Regions from separate parts of the Homo sapiens genome. Here region 1 is linked to region 2. Evidence: fine-mapped expression QTL. A gene starts in region 2. The other region holds a variant in brackets. All regions are shown on one strand. Distances are from middle to middle.

Region 1 (14,665 bases), 220 kb after region 2:
ACATGTCCCTGGGGTGGGGGCCTCTGTGCAACCATGAGGATGTTGCATTTTCTAAGGTGCAGTTGTTTTTTTACATCTTCGTGGGTGAGCCCTGTTTCTCCCTCTCAAACAGGTTGAAAGCACTGAGTTTGTCACTTTGGTGGAGGCTGTTTTTCTTCAGGTTCTAGGCTTCTGGCAGAACGTTAGAAATTCTGAGCTCAGCACCTTCCCTCTTTCTTGACCAGGGTATTGGGCAAACCCAGAGAAACCAGGGGCTGACAGGGATCTCAGGAAGGCCACGGGGTTGGTGGTTCCAGCCAAGATGGGGACAGAGCCAGCCCAGGCCAGCCACCCTGGAGCCAAGTAAGACTGGGCTGGGTCCACCAGAAGCCCAGGGTCACAGGCAGGCATGGGCTTGCTGGAGGCCGACAGCACCGAGGGATTGTCCAGTCCACCTGTGCCAGCCTCAGAAGGAGCACGTGGCCAGGACTGGCAATTCCCCCAGTTAATTATCTTTTGAGTCCCTTGCTGAGCTGGGGATGCTCTCTCTGAGCGCTCTGCAGGCTGACCCTGCAACAACAGGGCCTGTCATGCTGTCTGCTCTCCCCTGTGTGTGTCTCCGCTAATGATCAGGAGGGTCATTTGCAGTCAGAGCTCGGCTCTCATTATCCAGCCTGACTGAGGGACCCGCAGCCCAGAGCACACTGCAGGCAGACCTGGGTCGCACCATCGAGGTGCTGCTGGGAACTCGGGTGTCAGCCACGCTTTATAAATCGAATTAGAGGCTTGTTGACTTTCTGAGCTGGAAAGGACCTTAGTGCTCATCATGTCCAGTGCCCTCCCTGGGCCTGATTGCCCCTGACATGTGGTTGCCTGCCTTGGTCATAAGCCCTTTGTACCATCGCAAGCCCACCACCACCCAAGGGCACTGCCTCCTCAGATCCTGGGTCTGGCTGCTGAGCAGCTCCAAGCTTCTCTTCTGTAGCAGTGTTCCTTAGTGCATTTACACAGGGTAGTTTTTCTTTTTATTATTATTATTTATTATTATTATTATTTTAATTCTTTTTTTTAATTTTTTTTAGTATTTATTGATCATTCTTGGGTGTTTCTCGGAGAGGGGGATTTGGCAGGGTCATAGGACAATAGTGCAGGGAAGGTCAGCAGATAAACACGTGAACAAAGGTCTCTGGTTTTCCTAGGCAGAGGGTCCTGCCGCCCTCCGCAGTGTTTGTGTCCCTGGGTACTTGAGATTAGGGAGTGGTGATGACTCTTAACGAGCATGCTGCCTTCAAGCATCTGTTTAACAAAGCACATCTTGCACCGCCCTTAATCCATTTAACCCTTAGTGGACACAGCACATGTTTCAGAGAGCACGGGGTTGGGGGTAAGGTTATAGATTAACAGCATCCCAAGGCAGAAGAATTTTTCTTAGTACAGAACAAAATGGAGTCTCCTATGTCTACTTCTTTCTACACAGACACAGTAACAATCTGATCTCTCTTTCTTTTCCCCACATTTCCCCCTTTTCTATTCGACAAAACCACCATCATCATCATGGCCCGTTCTCAATGAGCTGTTGGGTACACCTCCCAGACAGGGTGGTGGCGGGGCAGAGGGGCTCCTCACTTCCCAGACGGGGTGGCCGGGCAGAGGCGCCACCCACGTCCCAGACGGGGCGGCGGCCGGGCGGGGGCTGCCCCCCACCTCCAGGACGGGGCAGCTGGCCGGACAGGGGCTGCCCCCCACCTCCCGGACGGGGCGGCTGGCCGGACGGGGGCTGCCCCCGACCTCCCGGACGGGGCAGCTGCCAGGGGGAGGGGCTCCTCACTTCCCGGACGGGGCGGCTGCCGGGCGGTGGGGCTCCTCACTTCTCAGACTGGGCGGCCGGTCAGAGACGCTCCTCACCTCCCAGATGGGGTGGTGGCGGGGCAGAGACACTCCTCAGTTCCCAGACGGGGTCGCGGCCGGGCAGAGGTGCTCTTCACATCTCAGACGGGGTGGCGGGGCAGAGGCGCTCCCCACATCCCAGACGATGGGCAGCTGGGCAGAGACGCTCCTCACTTCCTAGACGGGATGTCAGCCGGGAAGAGGCGCTCCTCACTTCCCAGACTGGGCGGCCGGGCAGAGGGGCTCCTCACATCCCAGATGATGGGCGGCCAGGCAGAGACGCTCCTCACTTCCTAGACAGGGTGGCGGCTGGGCAGAGGCTGCAATCTCGGCACTTTGGGAGGCCAAGGCAGGCAGCTGGGAGGTGGAGATTGTAGCGAGCCGAGATCACGCCACTGCACTCCAGCCTGGGCAACATTGAGCACTGAGTGAGCGAGACTCCGTCTGCAATCCGGCACCTTGGGAGGCTGAGGCTGGCAGATCACTCACGGTCAGGAGCTGGAGACCAGCCTGGCCAACACGGCGAAACCCCGTCTCCACCAAAAAATAGGAAAACCAGTCAGGCATGGTGGCACGCGCCTGCAATCCCAGGCACTCGGCAGGCTGAGGCAGGAGAATCAGGCAGGGAGGTTGCAGTGAGCCGAGATGGCGGCAGTACAGTCCAGCCTCGGCTAGGTATCAGAGGGAGAGACCGTGCAAAGGGGAGAGGGGGAGGGAGAGGGGTATTATTATTACTTTTTTTTTTTTTTTGGACAAGATCTGGTTCTGTCACCCAGGCTGTAGTACAGTGGCGCAATCTCGGCTGACTGCAAGCTCCGCCCCTGGGCTCAAGTGATCCTCCCATCTCAGCCTTCCAAGTAGCTGGGACCACAGGCATTCACCACCACCCATGGCTAATTTTTTGTATTTTTAGTAGAGATGGCATTGCCCAGGCTGGTCTCGAACTCCTAAGCTCAAGGAATCTGCCTGCCTCAGCCTCCCAAAGTACTGGGATTATAGGCATGAACCACCATGCCGGCCTATTATTATTTTTAAAAGACAGGGTCTCACCCTGTTGGACAAGCTGGAATGCAGTGGCACTATCATAGCTCACTGCAGCCTCGACCTCCTTGGCTCAAGCGATTCTCCCACCTCAGTATCCTGAGTAGCTGGAAGCATAGCCATGCACCACTACACCTGGCTATTTCTTTATAGTTTTGTGGAGATAGGGTCTCGCTATGTTGCCCAGGCTGGTTTCGAACTCCTGGGCTCAAACAATCCTACCACCTTGGCCTCCCAACGTGCTGGGATTACAGGCATGCACCACTACACCTGTCTGACACAGGGGTAATTTTTCTTGGTGCAGGACTTTGCAGGGCATTTGGCGTCTTGGTCCCTACCCACTCTGTTCTTTTTTTTTTTTTTTAATGCCCACGCTTGGTTAATCCCACCCCATTCTTCTGATGACTGCCCTCTTCCCCTAAGCATTATCACAATAAAAGTACCCTCCCACATTTGAGTCTCACCTTTGGTTAAGGACCGCTGCTCTAAAAAGACAAAACCTGCCTCCACCTCCCTCTGTGTACCCTTTGCTAAAAGCCACAGTTTGTCTTCATCTGAACCAAGCCGCTGAGCACAGGCTGCAGCTGCATTTCACTTAAGCAGCATACCTTGCAGTTGCCCTCGGGAAGCTTTACCTTATTAATTCTAACTCAGCCGTCCATCCCTCCAGAATCATCCTCCTCTCATCATCCTATGTGTCATGACCTTCCCAAGCTTCTCTCCTCCAAGTTATTTTAGTAAAGTTGTTGCTTATGGTGGGCCAGAGCCCTGCAGCTCCCCACTAGGGACCAGCCTCAGACCTGCTTGACCGTGATTGTTCAGGTCACAGAGTGCCACAAATCTGGATCTCGGCCAGCCCTTTGCCAGCTGAGTTGAGCTAAGGCATGAGGTTGTTCGGTCCCGGGGTTAAACAGAGATGAGGTATTTCTGTGCTCGAGGAGCAGCCTCAAGCTAGTTGGGGAAATAAGACTCACTGGGGCCACGTTGGAATCTGGCAGAGCAGGGCAGGACTAGGGTTCATTGACAGGCAGACTGGGCTTTGGGGTTCAGATGGAGGAAGATGGACAGGGCTGACTGTCAGGAGGCTGCCCAGAGGATGGGAGTCTTGAACTTGAAGGACTTCGGCTGGGAGGGGTAGTTGCATTCTATGAATTCAAGCTGGCTTTCCCAAGAAATGTTATGGGCCGAAGAGCCACTGGCCAGCACCCAGTGCCCTGCTGCCTCCATCACCATGGCCTCAGCTCTCTGTAAGTCCAGCAGAATGACCTAGAATGCAAAGCCAGTGGTCTGAGAGCTTGAAGACCAGGCTGGCACTTACTCTTTGGGCCATAAGTGGTCTGTCAGAGAAAGGAAAGCTGTGTGGGCTGGAAGACTCGCTGAGTACTGGTGGCTAACCAGTCGGTTCCGTGGAGCGAGGCTTCCTCGTGGGAGCACAGGGAGGTGGAGGGCCTGCTAGACAACATCCCACACTTTGAATGGCAGAACTGGAAGGAAAATTGGGCCCAGAGTAGGAAAGTGAATTGCCCCAGAACACACAGCCAGTAAAGGGCAGAGGAAGATATTAAACAGCGCACAGGGCTGTGCTATTTAGCTGGTCCTTCAGGGTCAACGAGGTGGTATCTCGTTGTTAACCCAATTTGGAGGGTCTTTTTAGAAGAGGGTCATCTGTTCTGATCCACAGCTCACCTTTTTCCCATTTAATAGCCCGTGTTCCTTCTCCAAGCCCCAGGCTATTCTGAGGACACGTTGTGGTTAGGCAATTGAAAGTTACACAGTCTCTCCTTGCAACCTTTAGGAATTTCACAAAGGATAAATCCCTCATTTCCAGGGAAACTGCAACGGGGTCCAACACCTCATAAGTCCTCAGTGCAATTTCCCAAACAAGACGGAAAGAAAATGGAAGAGAAAGCTGAGCGCTTTCACAATTAGCAAACTGTTTTAGTCCGTCATCCTCCATAATTTTATTGAATGGCTTGGAGGCAGGAAGCTCTTTTTGCCTTTTCATTAAGGCGACATTGAGCTGGAGGTGAGCTTGGGTGAGCTGGGACAGTTGAGATTTGATGCCCGCAGGTATCTGGCTGTTTGAAGGCTCTGGGTCTTTGTCTGAAGGCTCTGAGGACGAACAAATGGGAGAGGATGAGGGAGCCTGGACACTTGCAGCCCCGCCCTGCCCCGAGGGACGGCAGACGCCTGGAGGGTCCCTGGTGACTGTCATATTTGGAGAGCTCGGGTGTCACAATCATGTCTGCTGCAGGCTGCAGAGCTTTGGCACTGCGGCATGAGGCTGTGAGTCAGGGCCTGCTTTCTTCCACACAAATGCTGTGCCTCCCAGCAAGACCCTTGACCTCTTGGCCTCGTGGTTCCCTGCTGATGGGGGACATGGTGCCGCATGAGCAGGATGTCAGGAAAGGGTCAGGCTGCCATAGCCCCGCAGCTATATCTGGGGGTAAGGGTGGTGACGAGGAATACTAATTATCCTCAGTTTGTGGACGTCTGTAGGCTCACTCCCTGTTTTGTCCTCATCACTGGCTGCAGTGGGGCTGCCGTCTATACTCACAGATACCCAGGATACTATACAAGAGAAGGTGGCCAGAGAGGCCTGGCAAGGTCCAGGACCAGTGCCTGGGCAAGTAGGGCACCTTCCAAGTCCCTGCAGTGACCTGGACTTGAAGCCAGTGAAGTCTTTCAACCTCCTTCTTCCAGATTTTTAATGAGTGGTTTAAAAAGCCATTTGTGATTAGCACATTGTCCTTATGCAGATCAGTGTTGCAAAGGTAATTAAAGGCCTAATAAATCTTGTTTATGCTGTTAATTTGATTACAGTCAAAACTCGCTAGGGCTGGGGAAGCCTCCAAGATTGAGAGGTGCCTTCCTCCTTCTTATAGGTGCGGGATTTATGAACCCCAACAGAGAGGCTTCTGGGCGGGAGGGCCCCTGGCATCCCCTGAGTATAGCAGGTCGGGGAACAGGCCCTGGAGCCAGGCTGCTGGGCCTTGAGTTTCAGCTGGGCCATATTCTAGCTGGGTAACTGGCCAGTTACTTACCCTCCTTGTGCCTCGGTTTCCTCATCTGTAGAAGGGGAGTGACAACAGTGGCAGGAGTGGTGTGCTTGTCGCCAAGCCTGGCACACTGGGAGCCCATGGACCAGTCATTATTCCCCTGATCCTCAGCCAGGTGCCATCAAATTCTTAAGTGCTTATTCATGGCCAAACAAGAAAGAAGGGGGCAATCAAAACCAGCCACATCACACCATCTCCACAGCTGCCATTTTTAGCTCGGTTTTGCATAGCTTCACCAAAGCTCAGTTTATGTTAGGGCTTTGTTGCCCCAAGAACATTTTAAAAACAAAAAAAGAAGGAAAGGGGAGAATTGAAAGACCCATAAATCCCTGCACCATCAGTTCCAGATGGCCAAGATGCAAAGGATTTTTTCCTTTCCTCCTTCCTACTGAAAAAGTTTTAACACCCTCTAATATGCAGTTAGCTGCACAAGTTCCTAAGTTTCACCGCAGGGAGGGAAGGAAGTAGGCCCCAGTAATTGTGATGATGGAGAACACTGTTAATGGTTCCCCTAAATTAAACAGGGTGGGAGCTTCAGCTCCTCACTGGCTTGGCATTTCATTAGCAGTAACACTACAGCCTTGCACGGAGACGGGACCAGTATGGCTGGATCAGGGAAATTAATTAGAGTCTGACAATACCCTTAATGGAAATTGGTTATTTCTCCCAAATAAAGCAGCTATTACAAGTGCAAGGGAAGAAATAACTCAGCCCTCCCCCCGCGTTCCTTTCATGAATGTGTGTGTAGATGCTGCCATAGCGGGTGCACAGGAGCCAGGAATCATCACTGCCTTATCCCAGGCCTTGCTCATTTTCTCACATTCAGCAAAACCTCGATCATTGCCCGTGGAGCTGGCACAGACATGTAAACTGTCTACTGTGACTGCAGTGCAGAGAGCTCTCTATAAAATACGTGAAAAAAGTGCTGAGGGAACAGAGGAAAGTGTCCTTGGTTCTGCTTAGGAGGGTCCTTAAAGGGAGTATGCAGGCTGGGCTTTGAAGTATGGATAGAAGTTTGCTGGCTGGTGAAGGGAAGGCAGAAGAAAAATGAAGAAAGTCTCAGAGGCTTGAGAAGCACATTTTTTCTAGTTGACAGGTAGGAATGAAAACGGCTCCTCCCATTGGTAGCATATTTGAAAAATTCCTAGGCCACTTTCATTGTATCCTGAAGTAAACAGGGGTAGCTGTGTATGGCTGGTTGGAGGACTGGAGAGAAAGGTGTAAGTACAGTTGAGCAGGGTCTTTCTACCAGGTTCTGTGCTAAACTTTACTTTTTTCTCATGTTTCTTAGGAAAGTGTTAGTCCCACTTTACAGATGAGAAAGTTGAGGCTGACTGAAAGTAACATGTCCAAGGCCACAGAAAGCTTCAGTGGCAGAGCCAGGGTTTGACCCGGAAGACTGTAACTCCAGAGCCCACATAGGGAACCTCTCTCCTGCTGGGCCTCCCTCTGTCGGCTGAATATTAACCTCAAAAAGGGGTCCCTGAATCTTTGCCAACACGGCCAGTACAAGCTAAAGCAGACGATTTAGTGTATAAAGAAATTCTTTCCTGGAAGACTATTTGGGTTTTCTCTGCAGCTGGGCTTTGAGGCCCATCTTTACATTTCCCCTGTCCCTTCGTGCTAGGCGACTTCCCCAAGAACCCCCAGGAAGATGCAGCCCTTCTTGGAATTCTTGTGGCTTCTAGGTGGCCTCTGCAGTGTGCTCCCTTGCCTCGTGGCCATCTCTGGAGAGGGGAGCGTTGCCTTGCTGGATCCTAAGTTCCTAAGACAGTGGTGAGCCTGATACGGTCTGGTGACCCGGCAGCCTTGCCCTTGATTGGCTCTGCTACCTCTGTGAGCCCCAGCTTCTAAGATGGGCATCTGTTGGGCCCACTTAATGGGGCACTGAATGAGTTCTTAGGTGAAGGCCACTTCACAAAATTCCTTGCATCTAGAAGTCACTCAGTAAATCAGAACAACAGTAACAGCGGCAGCCAGCAGTTTCAGGGTGTCCAAGGTGTGCGGGACTCTGGGCCTCATACATGTTAGGCACTTACACTTAACCCTCACGGCAGCCTTCGAAGGGAGGGGCTGAATCAGCCCCATTTCATAGATGAGGTTGCTGAGGCATACAGAGAGTGAGCAGTGGTTTCATCGCTTCCCTCTGTGTCCTTCTCTCACTTTCTGGGCCCCAGTGGCCATGTGGCCACAGACACACTGTGTAGGTGGTCGGTCATCAGGCTTAACGAAATGGACATATTCATTTTCAGCATCACTCCAAGGGTGAGTGCAGAGAGGTGGTTTCTCCCTGGCACATTTTTTTGTTTAGCAAAGGTTTCCTGAGCCCTATTGGTGTGTGAAGACATCATGCTTGGCTCAGGGAGCCCAAGAAATCAGTGACAGCTCCTGAGGCAGAAGGGAGAAGGCAGAGGGTTCTCACTCTTGCCAGGAATGCGAAGAGCCAGTGGAGTTCAGTACCTTCTGCAAGGGCTTCCCGGAGGAGGTGGCCTTTGGAAGAGCCTGGAAAGGATGAATGGCATTTTCAAGGTGGGATGGAACTTGCCAGCCTGAGAAGAGGCACAGAGGCCCCTGTATTAGGGAGCAGTTGGCAAATGGAACCGTTGCTGCTGACATTGCAGATGGCTTCTGGCCTTGGTGCTTCTGTGGGTGGAGCAGGATTGTTGGGGCCGTTTTGGCTGGACAGGACTGTGGCTGGGAGCAGCTTATGGTGTGATACTGGGCAGGCCATGCTGGATTAGGGTTGTACAGAGTGGGACAGAATTATTAAAAAATGCCAAGCACCTGTGACCAGGTGAAGCAAGTCTGCAGGTTAAACTGTGCTCGTCGGAGAGAAGAAGGGCTCTCAGGCACCCTCCAGACCCTCCTCCCATCCCAGCCAGGCCATGCCTTTCTGGTAGCAGCCCAGGGGTCTGCTTGGTCCTTCATCCTTGGGAACAGGGACCAGGCATTCCCCCGGTGGTGGTATCTTGAGTCTAGGCAGTGGCGTCACATCAGCAGGGCTGCTGTGGGGGCCTGCGGGGGCGAGAGCCTTCTCTGCGACAGCAGGAGCCCGTCTCCCCCAGAATGAGATGAGTCACGGTCCTGTCGGTGCGGCTGCCACTTCTGCTTCTGCAGCAGGTGCGTGTGGAGGCAAGCTAGTCCTGAGACTGCCCCACACGCTGTGCCTGTCTCTTCCCCAGTGCACGGGCAGCATGCCAGCAGGGCCTCGCGTGTGTGCACGGATGTGTCCTCCATATGCCTGCGTGCATCTTTGCTCTGGGGCGGCAAACCTTCCAGCCAGGCAGTGGGATGGCCAGTTTGGGAACGTTGGTTAGCTTTGCTTCTCACCAAGTTTGGGGCAGAGGGGACAAAACAGGAAGGAGCTGGTTTCCGCCCACAAGGCTCACCCACGGAGCTGCAGGGCAGTTGGGAGCTTGTTCGTGGGCCTGTGTAGCGTCCTGGGCTGAGGTGATGAGGCAGCAGTTGCCCACTCCCTGGCCACAGGCAGGGCCCTGCCGGCCCCTGGGGCCTCCCATGGGGGTTCATTTCCTGAGCCTGGCCAGGCATGTTCTCAAAGGATAGGAACTTCCGTCTCAAGGCCATCAGCCTGGAGGGTTGGTGGGAACTTGTGGGGCAGAAGTTCTGGGGCGAGAAGCCACTCAGGCTTGGGTTTTGTTCAGATGTAGGGGACCCCCTCTGGTCATCCAGCACACCTAGGACATGGGCCTTGAGGACAGCAGGTGTCCAGGGGATCTCCTCTTTGTTTTGTAAAAGCGTGACCTGTAGAGCCTCCCTGTGAGACTCTGGTGTGCCAGTCTGGAACCAGGTGGTGTGCCGGGTCCCCAGTGACCTCCCTGGGAGACAGAGGCTGTTCCAGCCCAGCCTTCCTGAGGAGCAGGCTCATGGCTACTTTCCTGTGTTTCTCTGCACTGCCCACTCCCTCTGGGCTCCCAGTCTCCAATCCGCCACCTGGAGAGCAGAGTCTGTCGCTATCTGTCACCTTTGGCCCAAGCATCTGGATCTTCAACAAGCCACTACCCATCATTGTGCCTGGCCAACTGAGTGCCCTGAGTACAGCTCCTCTACTCCAAATGCGAGTCCTGCAGTTTCCCCAGAAATCACGAGCAGCGCTCAGTTGGGAAAGCCCTTTGACTGCATTCTCCTCTTTGAGCCACATCAGATTTAGGCTGCTGAACCTGTGTTCAAACCTATTTGACCAAGATCCACGATAAATACACATACGACACCTTGACCCAAGGTGCACATGTATTTGTGTATAAAACCAAGACAGAAGCTCAAGGACTAATCTTCATCTTTATTGTGTGCTCACACTCCATCACTTTCTAGTTGATGCTTTTTTCTCCCCTGCTGGTTGGATGTCATCACCTGCTCAGATTCTGTAACCCACAGTTGGAAAACACAGAGTAGAGTGGGGAGGTATCATCTGATGCCCATTTTACAGATGAGGAGATTGAGTGAGGAAACTTGCACCAGGGTCCTAAGCACAAAAGTCTCTGCCGTCACAGAGCTGTTCTAGAGGCAGACAGACAATAATCAAAAAAATATATAATTAGGACAGTGGTGGAGTGCTATGAAAAAAATTCCAGTGCCAGGGTGAGGGGGCAGGCAGTGTCGGGTAGGAGCTGCTTTTTTATACGAGGAGGGCGGGGGAGGCCCCTCCAGCGATCTCAGACAGGAAGAAAGCGAGGGGCTGGCCAGGCTGAGAAATCTAGGGCAGAGGGTATCCAGGCAGGGGAGGGGCAAGTATGAGCAGACAGTGGTGTGGTCCTGCCCTCCAGGCTGGTCGCCTCTGCAGGAGCCCGTCAGACTTGACCAGCATTGCCAAGAGCTCAGCCGGGCAAGGCACAGAGCACAAGACTTGGCTGCCCTGATCTCCGCTGCCTGCGGGTCATGCAGCCCTCCGCCTCCCTCTGGGAAGTCCTCACCTCTGGGCTGGGCTCCTTGCATCCCCAGAGGTGCCTCCTCAGCACCTCCATCCCCAGTTGCCCTGGCTGCTAGGGTTGGACTGGCCACTCAGCTAGGGTACAAGTCTGCCAGGTGTGACTGAGAACCTTTGCCATTTGCTGTCTCCTGTGACTAAGACAGACACAAGCCAGACAGAGGCATGAGGCTCTTTCCTGTTGCCCGGCCCTTCTCCCAATTTCCCTCCCCCAACACACATACGCACACACACATACACACACACACACCCTGTGCCCTGGGTAGAGGCAGTGGCACAGCTGTGGGCGCTTTGCTTTTCTGCTCTTCCTGGTTCCACATCTAGAATTTTGTGACTTGGTGAGGGGGTGGTGCCAGAGAGCCAGTGCCGGCTCTGGTGGGAGAGGCAGCTTCATCCCCAGCCTCCTGGGGGCTGGCACCCTGGCAGGTCTTCATGCCCTGCCCCTTCGCTGGGATCTGCTGGCCTCACTCTTGTGCACCCCAGCAGTCGGTAGGAAGCATCACTGGACACTCACTGTAGACCTAAGCACAAGAGGTGGGGCTGAAGGCTAACTC[C/T]TTGCTTCTGATACGTGAGAGCTCCTTGGGGAGATGTCCACAAACGTGGTGGGTACTGCTGGACCTGGTGAGGGGAGGAGGGGAAATATGGTCCGGGTTGGTAGAGAGGAGGCAGTGTTTAGGGGCAGGGGCAGCTCCACGAGAGGACAGAGCCAAAGCGGGGTGAGGGAATGGTGGGGTCCGCCAGAGGAGTAAGTCATTCTTAAGTGTGTGTTTGGACTCTGCCTTATAAATGCTGGAAGCCACCAAAGGTCTTTGATTGTGCCAGGCATCTTAGGTGTTTGAGGGAGATTAGCTTGGGGAAAATGTACATGAGAGATCGGGGTGGGGGCAGGAGAGGGTGTGCAGCAGGTAGGCCTGTACCCACATTGCTGGGGGCTGGGAAGGAAGGGTGCCGGAAGAAAGCCTGCATTCCCATGGCCCAGGCAGCCAGGCTGCTGTGAAGGGCTGGGAGGTAGAGGGAAGGGCTGACACCCTCAGACTCGGACCCTTCCAGCCTGTACTGAGAAGGGACCAAGCAGTTCCAAGGGTAAGGTGGTTTGGGGGAGCCCAGGCTCTTCCTAAAGGGCAACGTGGAGTCAGAGCCCGGGTGAAGGAGGAGCTCAGATTGGGCCTCAGGTCACACCACTTCATCAGTTGCATGACCTGTGGACTCGGGGATACAGGGAGACACACAGCCATGGAAGTAGCTCTCTGCAGTGATCGGGGGAAAGGTGGCCACTTCTGAACAGCCTGTCACCATGCAGGGCACACTGTTGTGCACTGGGCACTGAGACAGGCCTGGGGGGTCCAGTACCGACTCGGATGGGGGTTACCTTGGACTGACTGGGAGCTGCGGTCACTTGGTGGGGTGATGGGCATGGCCTGTCTTGAGTCTGTGCCTGCCAGGCCCTGAAGATCTCCCTCTGTCTCCCTCTGCAGTGATGGGTCGTTCCCCTATGACTCTGTCCCTTGGCAGCAGAACACCAACCAGCCTCCCGGCTCCCTTTCCGTGGTCACCACGGTTTGGGGAGTAACCAACACATCCCAGAGCCAGGTAAGAGCCTATACTGCCCTCAGCCACAGCTCTTTCTAGGCGGGAGTGTCCCTTGACCCCTGGAGCCATACCAGCCCTCTTCACCCTCACAGGCCTTGCCCTGCTGGAAAGACCAGCTTCCAGGGCACACCCAGCTGTGGACACGTCTCCACCCCTGGCAGGCTCTGCACCCGCCTCAGGAGGGCAGCCTCTATGGACTGTCCCCATCCTAAGGCCTTTCTGGAGGAATGGCATTCATCTGACAGACAGCAAGGGGTTCTTCCCTAGCCCATTTGCTCTGGTAAACAGGAGAACTTCCTCTGTGTTACTGGCTTCAGGGCTCCAAGGTCTGAGGTCTCTGACCCTGGATGTATGGCCTGAGTTGGATTTCATCAAAATATTGTGCCTTGGACTTCTGACAACTCCCTACTCCCCATTGCCCTAGTCAGACCCACCTCCCTCTCATTCCTTCCTCTCTCTTCCACTCCTCCTCTGCCCAGTCAGGGAGTCTCCCACCTGTCTGACCTCTGCCAGCCTTTTCTGTGGCTACATGGAAGGCTCAGGGCTGCTTGTCACCCTGGAGGGAGCCACTGGGCTGACCGGTTGTCGCCTGCTCCTGCTGCCCTCCAGAGCTAGCAGGGTGGGTTCCTCTTGGCCCTCACAGAGCAGCAGCCAGGGGCCTTGGGGCCCCTGTGTGACAAGACGCTGGCATCCAGGCTCGTTTGTGGGGCAGTAGGCTTCATGGCCAGGGCTCTCCCCACGGGTACCTGGTACAAGAGCAGCCTCTTCTCCCTTCACTGGGCTGCGCAGCCCCTGGGGACCGCTTGAACTGGCTTTGTGGGGCTTGGTCATACCCTCAGCTTGTTCCATCACAAGGCTGACGTTCTCATCCCCCACGCCACCTGCCGCCCAGGCCCGCTCCTTATCACCGGTACACTCAGAATAGTTCATCCACCCTCCATTTTTTTCCTCCTCCCTGTTGTCCTGCCTCCACTTTGTTCTTTCTCCCTTTCCCCTCTTCATTTATCCCTCTTCCTCTCCACACTGCCTCGGGTAGCACCTTAGGTGACAACCACTTCTCTGCCCACAGGTCCTTGGGAACCCTATGGCCAATGCCAACAACCCCATGAATCCAGGCGGCAACCCCATGGCGTCGGGCATGACCACCAGCAACCCAGGCCTCAACTCCCCACAGTTTGCGGGGCAGCAGCAGCAGTTCTCAGCCAAGGCTGGCCCCGCTCAGCCCTACATCCAGCAGAGCATGTATGGCCGGCCCAACTACCCCGGCAGCGGGGGCTTTGGGGCCAGGTGAGCAGGGCTGACCTGTGGCAGAAGCCATGGACGCCACCCCTCTTCCTCCTTCCAGTGGGGAGGGACCCACTTAAATCCCAGCTCCACGCTTTCTGCCCTGAGAAGTTATCCTCTGTTGTTACATGAGTTGAAGGGGCTCAGTCATCCCTGGCTCCCAGGGCTGGCCTGCAGATAAGGCGCTGCAGCAGTTGGCCTGTGTTCTGACAGTCGTCAGACTCGTAGAAATAGAGAGGTGACATTCTTACTCCTCAAAACCTCAAAACAACCCTTCTCTAAATTTTGTCTTTAATGAATAGGAAAATATTGAGAAAATCTGGATTGGGAAAGTCGAAGAGCAGGTATAGATGGGGTCCAGTTGCCCAAAGACAGTGAAGCAGTCTGGGAATATCTGCTCTGCCTTGCTGATTGGTGAAAGCAGAACTATGCAGAGACTGCGAGTCCCTTGGCTGGGAAGAAAAGGGCAGGGACTCCCAGGATATGGAGCTCTGGGGAGTGGTGTGAGGCGAGCAGAGGTGCCCATTCTCCTCTTTCCACCCCGCCCTGCCTAAGACCCCCACCTTGGCCTCAGCCCTCACCAGCCCTGGCTGGGTTTCTGGCCTGGGGTTGGCACAGCTATATGACCTGGTGGTTAAACACAGGGATCAGAAACACCTGCAGCTGCAGCCGCAGCTCCGCCATCAATGCTGCAGGGCCTTGGGCAAGTTGCTCAGGTTCTCTGAGACTCAGTGTCCTTCAGAAGATGGGCTCACCAGGGCCCCGACAGCATGCAGTGAGGGTGCAGGCACCCCCAAGGGCTCCAGGAGCACAGCAGCCTGGTCGTTGCCAAGTGGCACAAATGAATGGCTGCCAATCCCAAGAGGCCCCGTCCCCTCTAGGT
Region 2 (14,705 bases):
TGGAAAATCCTCATATGTCCTAGAATCAGACAAGTGTTTCAAACGATTTTGGAAGAGGGATTTGTGTCGCTCTCCCAGACAAGCATCCCAAGTCCCCTCCTGGTAGGGTGGGAGGACAGGCTGGCGGGGAGGGAGGCCCAGCGCACCCCAGGCTGTGAGTGGATGAAGAAGGAAAGCAGGGGGTGGGGGTGCTCCTCCAACCCTCCCCCAAGTGCCATCTGATTTTTGCAAAGAGGGTGAAGGCAGCAGGAGGCTCAGAGCCAGGGCCAGGGAGGCAGGTGGAGAGGGTGTCCGTGGAGGGGCTGCACCGTCAGCCTGGGCCCCCAGTGGAAAGCAAAATAGAAAGGCCCTGTGTCAGCAGCCAGGCCCCTGGGCAGCCGGGCTCTCGGCTCCATTCTGTTCAGTGGGATTCTGGTTGGCACCAGCTGCAGTCAGGAACAATGCCTGGATTTCTTTCTTTCTTTCTTTCTTTTTTCCATTTTAATAGAGGGGGGAGAAGGACCAGAGCCACTCATTGAACAGCTCAGAATTGTGGAGGCATCTGGGACCGTGTGTCCTTGAAAACAGCACAGTCGCAGGGGCCCCACAGCTGGCTGCAAGGTGCAAGAAGGCATGATACACTGGGAGCTCCAGGTCCCAGCCCTGCTGCTGTCTCATACTTGCTTGCTGTGTGACCTTAGGCAGGTCCATGCCCCACTCTGGCTTCCCCACAGCCCCACCAGAGCTTGCCTTCCAGGACCCACTCAATGCCAACTCTTCTTCTTCCCCGAACTCTTAGAATGGCATTGGGTGGCCGGGTGCGGTGGCTCATGCCTATAATCCCAGCACTTTGGGGGGCCAAGGCGGGTGGATAATGAGGTCAGGAGATGCAGACCATCCTGGTTAACATGGTGAAACCCCATCTCTACTAAAAACACAAAAAATTAGCCGGGTATGGTGGCATAGTCCCAGCTACTCGGGAGGCTGAGGCAGGAGAATGGTGTGAACCTGGGAGGCGGAGCTTGCAGTGAGCCGAGATCTCACCACTGCACACTCCAGCCTGGGCGACAGAGCAAAACTCTGTCTCAAGAAAAAAAAAAAAAAAAAAGAATGGCATTTGGTGTGGGCAGTCCTTCCTGAGAGACTGTGAGCCCCCAGAGGGCTGGTTCTGGTCATCCTCCATCCTGTGGGCCTCTATACCTCCCCTGCTCCGGATGGCCTGTCAGCCCCCAAGGCCTTGCACTGGGTGATGGGATGTAGCAGTGAGCCATCCTATGACCTGCAGCCTTGACAGAAGAGGGCCATGTAACACAATACCTCCCTAGCCTGTGAGGTGTCATACTAGGAAATGAAACTCCCTGTGCCTCAGTTTCCTCATCTGTAAAATGAGAATACTAATAGCTCAGAGGATGGGAGGAGTTCATGTGTATGAGCTACTCAATGCCTGGAACATAGCAGGAACTTCACAAGTAATTCCTATGGTTATGCTGATGTTGGAGGCTGGGAGAGCAGCATATGGGGGTTAAGACAAGGAAGACGGCACATCTGGTGGAGGTATCAGGGTAGGCTTCCAAGCAAGTGGTTGCAGATGTGGCCTTGGTGACTGGGAGGGGTGTGTCCCAGGAGGTAGGAAGAGCATGAGCAATGGCACAGAGGTAAGAGTATGTACATAATGCTGGCAATTCTGGAAGTCACCCTGCATGGCCACAGGATGAGGTGAGGGCAAGGAAGCATGAGTCTTGAGGCTGGAGGACTGCACAGCCAGAAGGAGGAGAGATGCTGAGGATCTGAGACCTTCCCCCACCCCTCTCGGGGTGCAGGAGCTATCAGGAAGGAAGTGGGAGGCATGGTCCTCCTCAGGTCGCTTGTCCCAGACTTCCTCATCAGTGCCGCATGTACTTGCTCCTCTGGAGGGGCCCTGACGCAGGTGAGGGGACACTGCATGAGGAGATGTGGCTCTTGCACCCCCTCTTGTCCCCCCACCGAGTTGCTGGGACTACAGGCATGTGCCACCATGCCTGGCTGAGACCTGGCTCTTGTTCCAGCTCTGGTGCTTCCCAGTGGTGCAGTCAGGGAAAGCCATCACCTCCTTTTGGGGCTCAGCTTAGTCACCCACAAAAGGGCTGTTGTGAGGCTCAGAGGGTGAGAGGTGCCTCATGAAGGGAGGCGTTAGGGTCATTACCTATTCACAGTCCTAGATAGTCACAGTTCTGAGCAGCTCCCTCCAGGTATTTTCTTGTCCCTACTCCACTAAATGGCCCCCTCTGAAAGCCCTCCCTAAAGCAGGGCCGCCCTCAAACTCTAAAGTGAACTGTAGCTCAGTCCAAGGGTTAAAGGCTCAGACCTACAGAATCTTAGGACAATCAGAGGCAAAAGTGCTGGTGGATATCCCACACTCTCTCACTTGGCAGATGGGGAACAGGCACAGGGAGAGTTTGTGATGTGCTCAGGCCACACAGCAAGTCAGGCAATGGCGGGCTGGGCACATAGGTGTCCCGGCTCCTGAGGCAGGCTCCCAGCCTATTCTCTTGTGACTCCCATCTGAAGAAGGGGTTGGTGGTTGAACTGGGTCTCGAACCATAGGGCAGAACTCCATGGTAGAAAGTGAGAAGACGGCTGGCTTGAGGGAAGGACATTGGAGAGTCAAGCCTTGGAGGATGGGAAGGTGTGGGCTCAGAGAATGGAGGGGCCATCTGATTGGAAATGAGGGGGAGGCAGAGCAGGGGAGCCTAATTCGCTGAAGGACATAGATCTTCCCTGCTTGACCCAACCACTCACCTCTTAGAGGCACAGGGCTCAGAGCTGGGCAGGGCCCAAATGCTTCCTGTATCCACCAAGGGGTGAACTCTAAATGTAATCTCCATTACCTCACTGCCATGGGAGGCACCCTGGTCATTCCCTGGCAAGTGGGTGAGAGTCTTTACTTCACCCCAAAGTACCTGGTAGGTTACCTTATCTGCACCATAACCTGGCAGTGAGATGAGGGCAAGTCCCTATTCTCAACCTCAAGGCCCAGCCCAACCTGGAGCCCAATCTCGGCTCCACCCACTTAGCAGCTCTGAGATCTTTATTGTTTTGTTTCGTTTTTATGAGACAGGGTCATGCCCTGTTGCCCAGTCTGGAGTGCAGTGGCACAATCATGGCTCACTACAGCCTCAGCCTCCCAGGATCAAGTGATCCTCCGACCTCAGCTTCCCAAATAGCTGGGACTACAGGTATGTGCCACCATGCCTGGTTAATTTTTGTATTTTTTGTAGAGGCAAGGTCTTGCTATGTTGCCCAGGCTGGTCTCGAACTCCTGAGCTCAAGTGATCTACCCTGCCTTGGCCTCCTAAAGTGCACAGATTACAGGCATGAGCCACCATGCTCAGCCAGCTATGAGATCTTGAGCAGGTCACTTAACCTCTCTGAGCCTCTTCCCTTAGCAGGGAATGACACCTGGCTTGTGGAGAGAATACAACGAATGTTTCCAAAGTGCGTGGCATACAGTAAGTACTCAATGAATGAGATTTTCTTCCCACCTCTCTAGTCTCAATTTTAGATGTTCCCTGGCTCCCTTAAGTTCCAGAAGTGAGAGGTGGAGAGTGGGGACAGAGAAGGCAGCTCCTGGACAGGTGGGAATCCCCACTGTGTACCCGCCCCCATCCCAGCCCAGCCTAGGAGGCCATACTCGCCGCACCCTACACAAGTCCTTTGCTTCCCTCAGGGACCTCAAGCCTCCCACCCCCACCATCCTGCTGGCCTCCAGATTTTCTGCCTCCTGAAACCTGGGCCCAGGCCCCAGCAATGGTCCTCTCCCCAATCTGCTGGTGGCTCCCACAGGACAGGGAAATTAACAGCACTTGAGTGTGCTCTGAAGGTTGGTACAACCTGGCGGCCCCACACTGCCCATGCCCTCCTAGTGGAGCCAGGTGACTTCTGGGCCTGCAGGGGCTGAGCAGGATGCATCTTCCAGCTCTGGGCCACGAGGAAGTGATGGCACTGTCCTCTCTTGTCTCACCAGCAGATCTCCAGGCCCAGTGAGGCTGAGACTTTGGGGGTGAGGTTGTTGGACACACAGTTCCCAGTGAGTCCTGATGGCACCATGGACCTTACAGGGGCTCAGAGGGGGAAAGCAGCTTGCTTGGGGCTACACAGTCTATGGATGAACAGAGCCAGGGCTGAGGGGACAACAGGAAACTCTGTTCATGGGGGCCCGAGTTCCCATCCTGACCAATCTTGGGCAAGTCATTCACAGTTGAGTTTCCTCTGAAAGGGGGATGGTAGCGGCACCTAACTTAAGACAATGTGACAGTTCAATCAGGGAACTGAATTCTCAATACCTAGGAGGACCCACCACAGTACTCACCACATAGTAGACAGTAAATAAGTCATAGCTTCTTCCAAGACCCCAGAGGTATCCAATCTACCCCATTACCTCCCTGGAAGATGAACAAAGAGAGCAAGGGCCTCAGAGACCCAAGGACTGGAGCCTAGGGAAGACCCAGGACCCTGGTGGGCTTTCTGACTTGCTGCCATGCTTGCACAGAAGGGGAGGGTTGAAATGATCCCTGGTTCCATGCTACTAAGTTGAGCCTACTTGGCTCCTCTGCCCTCTGCAGCCACTTCCTGGGTTTCAGATGTAAATACTGGTGGGAGAGTAGGGGGCTGGGATGTGGGGTAGGGGGTGGAGCTTCTGGACAGGAGACTTTGAACATGAGTGGTCACCTCCGAGGTCACCTGCATCCCCCAATTCCTGGAAGTGGGCAGGCCCTGGATACTTATTGAGGAATCTGGACAGAAAGGTTGAGAGGGCTGGGCGTCCAGACCTAGCTGGTCATTAAGGCAACAAGAACTGGTCTAATTGTGGGCTGGGCTGGATTATCACATCCCAAATCCTTAAATACCCAGAAACTCTCTTTTGGGATTTTGGACCTGGGTATGGGGTGGCTGCTGCCACTGCTGCAATGCTGTGGATTGCTGGGAGTGGGACAGCTGTGGCTGCAGCCACCGTTCTGCAAGCTTAATTCCTACCTTCGGAGGTTTCTCAGGTGGCCCTGGTGTACCTACCTGTGAACTTAGGCCACCCACAGGCTGAGGAGGGGCTCAATCACACAGCAATGTGCTGGGACCATGACTCCCTGGTGTCCCTAGAGGTCTGGAAGTGCTTTCATACCACCCACCCTCTCCAGGGATGCTCAGCTGCCACCTACAGGGAGGGCGGGGGTGGAAGAGCAGCAGTCATCACAGTCCATGTCCATGTGACAGGTAGGAAGACTGAGGCCCCAAAGGAGTGCCTTTTCTTGCACCCAATGGCATAGGGAGGCAGAATTTCCCCTGGGGAAAATAAAATAACGCCCCCACTCCGCCGCCTGCGCCCCCACACACCCCGTCCCCCACGCCCGGGTGGACCTAAGCAGCAGTTTTCTGAGCTTTCAGGAATTCCAGACTGAGTTCACTGGCTGTGAGACTAGCGGAGCCTTGAGAATGAATTCAAAGCTGGCAAATTCATTTTGCCTCCTCTCCCTCGGTGGTGGAAGGAGTGATCTCTCCGGCTCTGAAGGAGTTCAAGCCGAGGTCAGCGAAGCCCTCAGAAGGATGTTCTAAAATGGGGGTGGGGGGTAGTGCTCCGGCCTGCTTCCCCGGTTGGCCCAAGGTCCGCGCTGATCACCGCCCAAGAGGCCCAGGAGACCCGCAAATCTGTGCTGCACGTCCGCACTCCCATGCGGGCCTCGTCAATCAGGAGGCGGCTCCGGCCAGGCCTGGACATCTTCGGCCCGCCCCAGGCCCCGGGGGAGACCCCCGCCTGGGCCGCCTCCGGGTGCCCGCCCCCCGGCGGTGTCATTGTTCTCTGACGTCACGCCTCAGCCCCGCCCCTCTCCCCCCACCCTTCCTCCCCCACCTCCGGCTCCCCGCGCCCCCGACCCTGCAGCCTCCGAAGCCCCGGCCGTGCAAGGCTCCCCCCGCAGCCCGGCCGGGGCTGCGCCCCCTTGCGCTCTCCCCAACTTGCCTTTGTTATTCCAGCTCCCTTCCTCGCCTCGCCTCCGACACGGTGGCAGCCTGCAAAACGTGGAGCGCGGAGTCACTGCCACACCTGGAATCCGAAGCGGGCTCCGCCGGCTCCCGGCCGAAGCCGCCCCCGCCTGCCGGGGAGGGGAGCGCGTGCGTGGGCGGCGCGTGTGTGTCCAAAGAGGGCTGCGCGGGCGCCAATTATGATTGGGACTGGGGGTGCCGAAAATCAGGGGTGGGGGGCCTCGAGGAAGGGGTATGGAAGAGGAAGTGGGAGAGGAGGGCGTGTGTTTGTGTGTGTACGTTAACGTGAGGATTTAGTGCCCAGGGGAACGTTTCGTGTTTTGTTTTTTGATTGTATGTGGGGTTGTGTACAGCGATGTGTGTGTGTAACTGCGTGTCTCTGAGCGTGCCTGCTGTGGCCGTGTAAGCGGGCATCTTTGTGAGGGAAAGTAAGCGAGTGTGTGGGGGCGCGTTTGTGGTTTGGGGGGGAGCGTGTTTGCAATGCTGAGGGAGCGAACGTGTGTGCCGTTCTTGTAGGAGTTTCCGTGAGAGTGGCAGTGGACGTGAGCCAAAGTGGGCGCGTAGTTGGATGCTCTCGGGGGGGGGGGGTGGGTCGGCTAGGGGAACTCCCGCGAGTGGGTGCACCCAACTGCGCCTCGTGAGTACCTTAGCTCTCCGCTATCTCTGGCAGTGCCCAGTCCGGGGCAGAGGGCCAGGCCCCAGCCTAGCAGCTCCCACGCAGCCCGCGCGCACAGCGCCCCGGGCGCTCCGCGCCGGGCCTAGGGGAATCCACGCGTCTCTGGACTGTGCTAGGTGCCGCGGATCAACTGTGGCCACCACACCCCCGCTCCCCCACAGCTGTCGGGGGGCCGCGCTCTAGTCTCCCTCAAAGTCACCCTTGGTGGTGGTGGTCCTCTTCCCACCCCAACCACCAGTCCCCGGGCTGTAGGAACAATTCCAAAGTCAACCCCAGGGGAAGGCTTTGGAGGTCCAGTTACCAACTCGCTTACCCCAATTCGGGTACCTGACAGCGCCCGGGGCCACGAGTGCACTCCAGGCGGGGGCGTGCCAGCGCGGGGCAGGGGCTCTCGGGTGAGCAGTGTGATTTTGGCTTCCTCCCCAAGGTGGTCCCTACCTAGGCTCAGCATTTGTTCCCCTCTCCAAACTTACTGGGGCTGGGGCCTGCAGGGGGGCTGGGGGCTGCAGGGGGCGTCAGGGAGTAGCGGAGGGAGTAGGGCAAGGAGAGAGGTGAGTGGACTGGTGGCGTAGCGGGGAACCAGGAGCCAGGAGAAGAAAAGCTGGGAGAGCGCCGAGACCGAGGAGCGAGGAAGAGAGGAAGAGAAAGGAAAGGAAAGGCGAGGGAGAGAACGAGGAGAGGCGAAAAGGAAAGGGGAAAGAGAGCGCAGAGCGCGAGCCAAGCCGAGCGCCGGCAGCGGCGGCGGCGCGGCGCGGCGCTCCACTCCGGCCTGACTCCGCACCGGCTTTTGCGGGCGGCCGGCGGCGCGGGGCCCTTTGGAAATAGAATAGCCAATGTAATCTGACACTTCAACTTGCTCGGCTCCGGGCGAGTTGATTCACTTACTCACCCCCTAACGCCGAGTTCCTTTTCACTGTCTGTGGACATTAAAAAAGCGAGCGGCGGCGGCGGGCGCCGGGGAGAGCGGGCGGCCGGGCGGCAGGCGGGCGAGCAGCGATCGGGCGGCCGAGCGAGCGAGCAACGCCGGCGCAGCGCGGTGACCCCAGCCCCAGCCGGCGCGGAGCAGGAGCCGGAGCCGAGCGGATCTCGGCGCCCTCGCTGCGCTCCTCCCGGCCCGAGCCTGCCCTACCCGGCGGTGGCGGCGGCGCGTCCTCCAGCGGCGGCAGCGGCGCTCGCAGCGCCCGGTAAGTTTGGGGCCAGAGCCAGGCGCCCGCTGGCTCCGGGGCTACCTCCCGCTCCCCGGGGACTCTCGGGGTGCAAGCGTGGGGATTGGGTGCTGGGGTTTTTCCCTTAAAGTGTCCCCCGGAGCGGGGCGACCGGCCGGCGGCGCGGGCTCCGCTCCGCTCTCCTTGGCGGCCGGGGGCCGAGGCCCGGCGGCCGGCGAGCTCCCGGCTGCGCGGAGCCGGCTTGGGCTGCGCGTGGGGGCCGGGTTTGTCAGGGTGTGCGGGGCGTAAGTGTGGTCGTGCGCGCGCGGACCCGGTGCCCGCCTCCTGCCGGCGCGCCTCCAGCCCTCGCTCCCTACACCCGGGGGCCGGGCAGGACCGGGAATCGGAGGAGGGAGGGAAGGACCGCCTCGGTCTCCTTCGCCTCCTCTGGGGAGATGCGAAGTTGTGCGCCTGTGTGTGTACAGGAACCGCTGGGGAAAGCGCTGGATTTCAGGATGGCAAGGGGTGGTGGTGTTAACTTGTGCGTCTGAATTTCCAGGGAAAACATACACTTTTGTAAATGGGAGGTGGGGGCGCGGTTAAGTTGTTTGTGTGGGAATTGCCCGGGGAAAGCTGGCGCGCGGTACAAACGAGAAACGCGGAGGTGTGTGTGCAGGGTTTTCTCCCAGGGCTTCGCAAGCCAGAGGGGCGCTCAGGCCAGTGCCTGGACGGGGCTGCCCCGGCCAGGAGGGGAGCCCAGGGGGAAGATGTGCGTGTGTGTGCGCGCGCGCGTTGCAAATACGAAAGTAATTTCCCCGTGTTCTTTCTTCCTCTCCGTCTCCGGCGGCGGTGGCCCCGGGGGAGTGGGAGGCCAGCCGGGGCGGAGGTTGGGGGGCCGGGGCTGGAGCCGGGGTCGGGGGGGGGAGGCGGGTTCTGGAAGCTTGCTTCACATTCCTGGCGTCTGGGCTGGGGAAAAAACAGTGGGGAGCGCGGCCTCGGCGTCTAGGGCGCGGGCAGCGGGCGCGCGTCGCCCCCTCGCTGGGGACATCTGTCCAGGAAGCCGGCCGGGCGGGGATAGGGCGCGGTGCGGAGGGCAGGCTCCCCGCCCTGGAGCGGTGGGGGCGCGGGCGAGGGGCGGCCGCCTTCCCGGCCATTGTGCGCCAGCAGATTTTCACGGGAGACTGCCCCGGAGCCGCCGGAGAAGGCCGGGAGCCGGCCTCAGCCCCGGGTTTAAAAGACACTCCAGGAATGTAAACAACCCGGGCGGGAGGGCGGGCGGACGGGAGCGCGCCAGGGCAGCCGGTCCGGGCCCCCCACCCCTCCCCGGGGACAGCCGGTCGGCACTGCCGCCCAGCCCTACCCCTCTACCTGCAGCAAACTTTTTCCTTCTCTGCCTTCCCTTCCCACCTCGTCCCTCCAGCAGGTCACAGAGCGAGGGCCGCTCCCAGGTGGGCCAAGGGTGCTTGGTACCCTTGCCTGACCGGGGAGGCCTGACGGCCGGGTCCCTGCTTCGGTGCCCGGAGCCCCGGCTGCGCCTGCCCGGGAGCCGTCAGCTTCCTGGGTAGGCAGTGCCCGAGTAACTGGGGCTTTGAGCCTGCCCGCCTGCCTCCCTCCCTCCCTCCCTCCCGCTGCTCCTTCCCCCGCGCGCTCTCCCCCTTCTCCTCTCCCCTGACTGCTTTTCCAATGCCCTGACATGAGGGAGGAAGATTTAACTTGGCAGCCCAAACAAATGTTCTCTCAGAGGTCCTCCAAGAAGCTGGCGGCTGGGCTGGCGGGGTGAGGGCACGGCTCGGCCAGCCTTTCCCTCCTCTCTGCTCTGCCACGGACATTTGGAGCCCTCTGGGTGGACAGCCCAGGGCATGGGAGAGTAGGGCCCAGCCCCAAAGATTTAAAAGGGCAGTGGGCGGCCGCCTGTGGAAGCCCCTGGCTCCGCGCCGGGTGCAGAGCCGCTCCGAGCTGCCTCCTGGTGCCAAGGGTTTTCTGAAGGATTTTCTTGAGCAACAGTTTGTCTCCCTGCTGCAACCTGGGAACCGGGCCTGGTAGACCAGAGGGTTAACCAGTGCCGACTCCTCCTCCCTGGTGGGTGTGAGGACAGGCTGGTTACACAGGGCAGGGCAGGAGGCCAGAGGCTGTTCCCAGAGGTGCCTGGGTTTGCTTATTACTGTTTTTGAAGGTACAGATAAAGAGGCAGGCGCCGGGGCTGGAGAGCCGGGCAGCTTGGCGCTGGTGAATTCCAGCCTGCGTTCGCTGGCGCTTGTACGGTCCCGGGAGTGTGAAGCTGCTGTTGAGCTATCGGGGAAGTTGAGATGAGAGAGCAAGCTCTTTCTTAGCCTTCTCAGCCCCGGCTGCTTTGTGAGGGGGTCCAGAGTGGGGGAAATTCCTGGCCCCTCACTTGCTGGCTCCTGGCCCCAGTGCAGGGGCCGGGTGGGTTTGTGAATACCCCAAGCCTTGGGCTGACCTTTCCCTCTTCAAGTCGAGGATGTTGAAACATCAGCATCAAACAAAAGACACATTGAAAGCCCTATCTGCTACAGAGCACGTGTGAGTTGGGGGCCCAGGGAATGCATTTGGAGGGAGATGGTGTTTTCTTCTGAGCTTTATGATTTTCGGTTGGGTTTTGTTTTCCCCCAAAGGACAGAAGCGTCTCCTTGTCCCAAATCACGAGGTTTTGAAACGCTGTTTTCACATGTAAATCTCAAAAGTTTAGACTTCTGAGAGTTGGTGGCAGTGACTGGGGGTGGGGGCTGGGTGGGGGGAGGAGAAGGGAGCAGTAGGGAGTGGATTCAAGAGGTGGATTTGGCATTTTGGGTAGGGCTTACTGAGAAGAGTTGGGAATAAGAAATTGCTGGACTTATGAATAAATAGCCTTGTCTATGCAGAAAAGGGTTGCTGGCTTCTTTGTGGGGACAAAATGTCCCTTTTCCCTCCTAAGCAAAGGGGGGAGGAGGGTTCTTGTTCCTCTCACAGCCAGGGGCAAAATGAAGAAAGGTCCAGAGACTGCGGGGTTTGGCGACAGAACCAGTTTCTCCCTCACGCACGCGCGCACGCACACTCACTTCCCTAGCCACAATAACAACGATGTCTCCATCCCTGGCCCCCATAGATATGCCTCCAACATAGGACAGGTGTCCATGCTTGACTCATTCCAGAAAATTGCAGGGGCAAGGACCCAACTGAGAAGAGCTGCAGACTTCACTTTTTTTCCTGTTTCTTCCTGATGGCGGGAGGGGTGAAGGGATTTAGGAAGGAAGGCACTTTGAGGCCTGCTGCATCCTGAGAGTTTTGTCACAAGAATACCTGCGTATAAAGCCACTGACCCTGAGGGTCCAACGAGTGGCCATGACCCTGGCCTCAGGGTGAGGCATTGTTGTAAGAAATTCAGGCACCAACCAATTAATTTCCAGAAGCTTCTGTAGGCACTTGGTCGTGGGACCAGGAAGCAGGGCCTGCTGGTTCGTGGCTGGGTCCTCTACATTTTCATTCATAACTTTGCTCCCCAGGGCCCTGGCCCAGCCCCTGTCACTGCTGCCTGGTCTTTATGAGGCTCCTTAGATTTTGTGTGGACAACAAAGGCCAGGCTGCCACGATTACCCAGGACACTGCTGCAGCCTTGCCTGGCGACAGCTCTGACCTCTTAGCAGGATATAGTGCTCTCTGCTCATGCCCTTTGGGGGAGTGCTCTTTGTCCTTAAGAGTCCCTCAGGATGGGGAGGCAGCAATCCACCTGGCTGTAAGCTCCGGGGCGTTCTGAGGTTGGGCCCTGCCTTTAGAGAGGATGAAGGGAGAAGGCTGAGAAAAGCAGTCCTAGGCATAGGCTCTGGGGAGAGGCTAGACCCCATCATGATTGAGAGGGTCTCCCTATTACCGGAGGAGATGGGCGAGAGGACCAAGGTGTCAGGAGGCTGTTGCTTGCTATCTGTGTTGGGCCAGTAACTCTCCTGTGCTGGACCTTAGTCTCCTGATCTGTAAAATGGGTCTGAGGGCAGAACTCCTCCGATCCCACTTGGTTGCTGGGAGAATGAGGCAGATGTGGGCATGAGTCCCCTAGGCATGTGTCCCTTGAAGGCCTGGGAGGCTCTGGGTACAGAATGGGTAGAACACAAAGGGTTTAGATTGCAAGTGCTAGAAGCATTTTGCTGAAGCTGCTCTCATCCAGACCTACTTCCCTGGCAGCTGATTGTCCAGTCTTGGCTTGCATGCCCCCCACAGGACAGGGTACTCATTACCTCCTGGAAGCCTCTGCCTTCAGTGGGCAGTTGTGAGTGTTAACATGTTCTGCTACATGCCTTCTGCAAATCCACACCTCCTGACCCCACTCTGGGCTTGAGATGCTGGGGGGCCCTCCAGACCATAGACTCGTTCTTTCCTGAATGATCCTGGGTTCAAGACCAGTGCCTAGGCAGGCCCCTAGGTAGGGGGACACATTCAAGTGGCTGCTTCTAGCCCTTATTGGGAATGACCTGTTGTGGGGGGTGCAGAAGGGGGAAGGGTCTGCCTGGGGGTGCTCACTGTCATCTGCCTTTGTGTGCCAGGTTTGCCTCTGGGCACTTTCCTTGGAGCGGGGTATGAGAAGGAAGGGGGTGCGTGATGAGGGCTGGGGTTGGGTCGGGCCCGGCATGGGTGCCACAGGTGTTGACTGTGAGTGTCCACCCTGTGGATAAAGACTGTGTCCTGGGAGAGACCAGAACTGTGGAAGACAGTTCCTGTTCCTCAGGAGCCCACAGTCCAGTGCCGGCAGGAAGATCAGTCCAAATAAATAATTAACCGCTACCAGCTGGCTGCCTGCCACGGGCGCGTGATGACAGTAATAACCACAGCCCCTCTCCTTTGTATGGTACTTGGTGGATTTAGAAGCTTTTTCCATCTTTGTTTATCCCCAATAACAACAGTGTAAGCTAGTTACTATTTGGAATTATCCCCATTTAACAGAGCAGAAAACCAAGGTTCAGAGCGGTCAAACAACTGGTGGCAAAGTTAGGACTGAACCTCAGGCCTTACCGATACCAACCCCTGCGCTGCCTCCTTTCCAGTCCACTGAGTGAGCGCTCCAGCCAGGCTCGGACACGGTGCAGAGTCAGGATAGGCTCCAAAACTGGGTGCTGGGGGAATGAGGTGAAGGAGGAGCCATTCTCAGGAAGGGTCACAGATGGGCCTCACCTGTCTTCCCCCTCCCATATGGCAGCACATGGTCCATGCCCCCAGTAGCTGTGTCCCTTTCTTTTGGCACAGTGTCTTACAGCCAGAGCTTGCTTCGAGACACAAATCCTGCCTTGACTGCCCAGGGCACACAGGTCTATACATGGGGCTTCATGCCCTTCTCCGGCTCTGGAGTAGGAGGCAGAGGTGTTTCCAGCCCCCCGGGTCCCCATGAAGCCCAGTGCTCTTCCTTGGGTTCCTATGGTTTCTGTAGTCCCTCTTCGGGCTGAGTCAGTCCCCAGGCTATGTGGGGCACCCACTCCGTGTGAGACCTTAGGTTCTTTCTGCCCCTTGCAGCCTCCACCCTTGGGCCTGGTTTTCTGTAGCTCAGCTGAGTGCCACCCTAGGACAAGGCTGTAGCTAGTGGGGTTCAGGCCAGGGAGCAGCCGGGCAGGCTGAGCTGGCACCTCCCCAGGAAGCCTGGCCCAGCCTGGCACACCTGTGCAGGTAATGACTGTGGCTTGGGAGGGCCCCAGGCCCTGCCTGTCAGGCCCAGCTGCCGGAGTTACTGCAGGATTGTGCTGGGGGAGGCTGGGGTGTCTGAGCTAATTAGATTTCTTAGATTTCAATGCTCCCCTAATCCTGTTAGTCTGGCTGTAATTGTAACCACTTGAAGGTTTCGGCTGTGGCAGGCTGTTGAGGACAGACGGTGGGGGGACTGTGCTCTGCCCCAGCCCCAGCTCCACCCCTAGACAGCCAGCTGAGGGCCTGGGGACTGCCTTCTTAGGTCTTGAGGATGGGGGCTTGAGTGATGGTGGGTGTCGTGTTTTTCTGTAGAAACTGAGTATCGCAGACTGTCAGAGTGGACATAGCCCTTTGAGATCACCCAGCTCAAACCCTTCACTGTTCAGATGGGGAAACTTAGGCCCACAGAGGGACAGAGACTGGCTCAGGACCTTGATGGCTGGTAGCAGTGGAGCATCAAAGACTAGTGGTCTGACTTTGGGATATTTGTCCCTAGGCACTTCAGGGAAAGTCTGGAATTTCCAGGGACTAGTGAACCCTCCAGAGACTTCTGCCCCTAGAGATAGGGCTTGGGGGGCTTCATTTGTCCCCAAGCTTGTTCCCCAGTTGGCAGTTACCTGTCTTATATTCCCCCAGCCCTGTGTGTGTGCACACCTGCACACAGCTGCACACACATGCACACACATGCACACATGCACACCTGCACACATGCAAACGCATGCACACCTGCACACACATGCACACACTGGCCCTGCTGGCCAGGGCTTCTGCCAGGACTCCGGCTGCCTGGCCCAGGGTCCTGAGACCTGAGAGCTCTCTCCGTCCTCCCCCACCACTCTTAGCCAGATACTTGCCCTCTTGGAGCCTCTGATTCAATGCAGATCAGGAAATGGCCAAGCTGTTCTGATGGGGGTGTGTGTTAAAATACATACACTGTACTTTCCCCAGCTCTTTCTTCGAAAGTTCTGTTTTGGTGTCTGGCTTAAATGGAGATCTGTCCTCTCTCCCCGCACCCCATTCTCACTTCCCAATCCGCAGGGGATGACTGGCAGGGAGGATGGGGACGGTGTGCCTTGGATCTTCCCACTTAGGTCCTGTGCTGCCCTCCTCTTAGCTCGGGAGCTTCGGGGAAAGATCTGGAAAGCCCCTTCCACTGTGAACCTCTCTGACTCTGGGGTTTGAATTCCTAAGCTTGTAGCATAAAATTAGTGGGAACTGGTTGCGTTACCTGG

The links. PIP is the estimated chance that this variant, and not a neighbour inherited with it, causes the effect.
Region 1: its variant is fine-mapped to the expression of ZMIZ1 in whole blood (INTERVAL, PIP 0.95).

The regions. Positions count from the first base shown.
Region 1 is chr10:79,277,392-79,292,056 of GRCh38, forward strand. ZMIZ1 (zinc finger MIZ-type containing 1) reads left to right here. Exons shown (of 25, transcript NM_020338.4): 9 at 12,384-12,498; 10 at 13,568-13,785. Among named protein-coding and RNA genes, the nearest start is that of PPIF, 63 kb to the right of the region's middle. RefSeq lists a silencer at 2,295-2,464, enhancers at 7,607-7,726, 8,177-8,366, 8,580-9,230, 8,777-9,396, 9,231-9,881 and cis regulatory regions at 7,841-8,341, 8,829-9,329, 8,927-9,427, 8,943-9,443, 8,952-9,452. The variant C/T (reference allele first, on the strand shown) is at 11,463.
Region 2 is chr10:79,061,420-79,076,124 of GRCh38, forward strand. It overlaps ZMIZ1 (zinc finger MIZ-type containing 1), which reads left to right and starts at 7,547. Exons shown (of 25, transcript NM_020338.4): 1 at 7,547-7,851. ZMIZ1-AS1 (ZMIZ1 antisense RNA 1) reads right to left here and starts at 6,029. Exons shown (of 10, transcript NR_024431.2): 1 at 5,969-6,029; 2 at 5,029-5,167; 3 at 4,328-4,400. RefSeq lists silencers at 5,588-5,797, 5,838-5,887, 5,988-6,197, 6,998-7,067, 7,328-8,307, enhancers at 6,461-7,306, 8,508-8,557, 10,863-11,366 and a cis regulatory region at 7,180-7,865.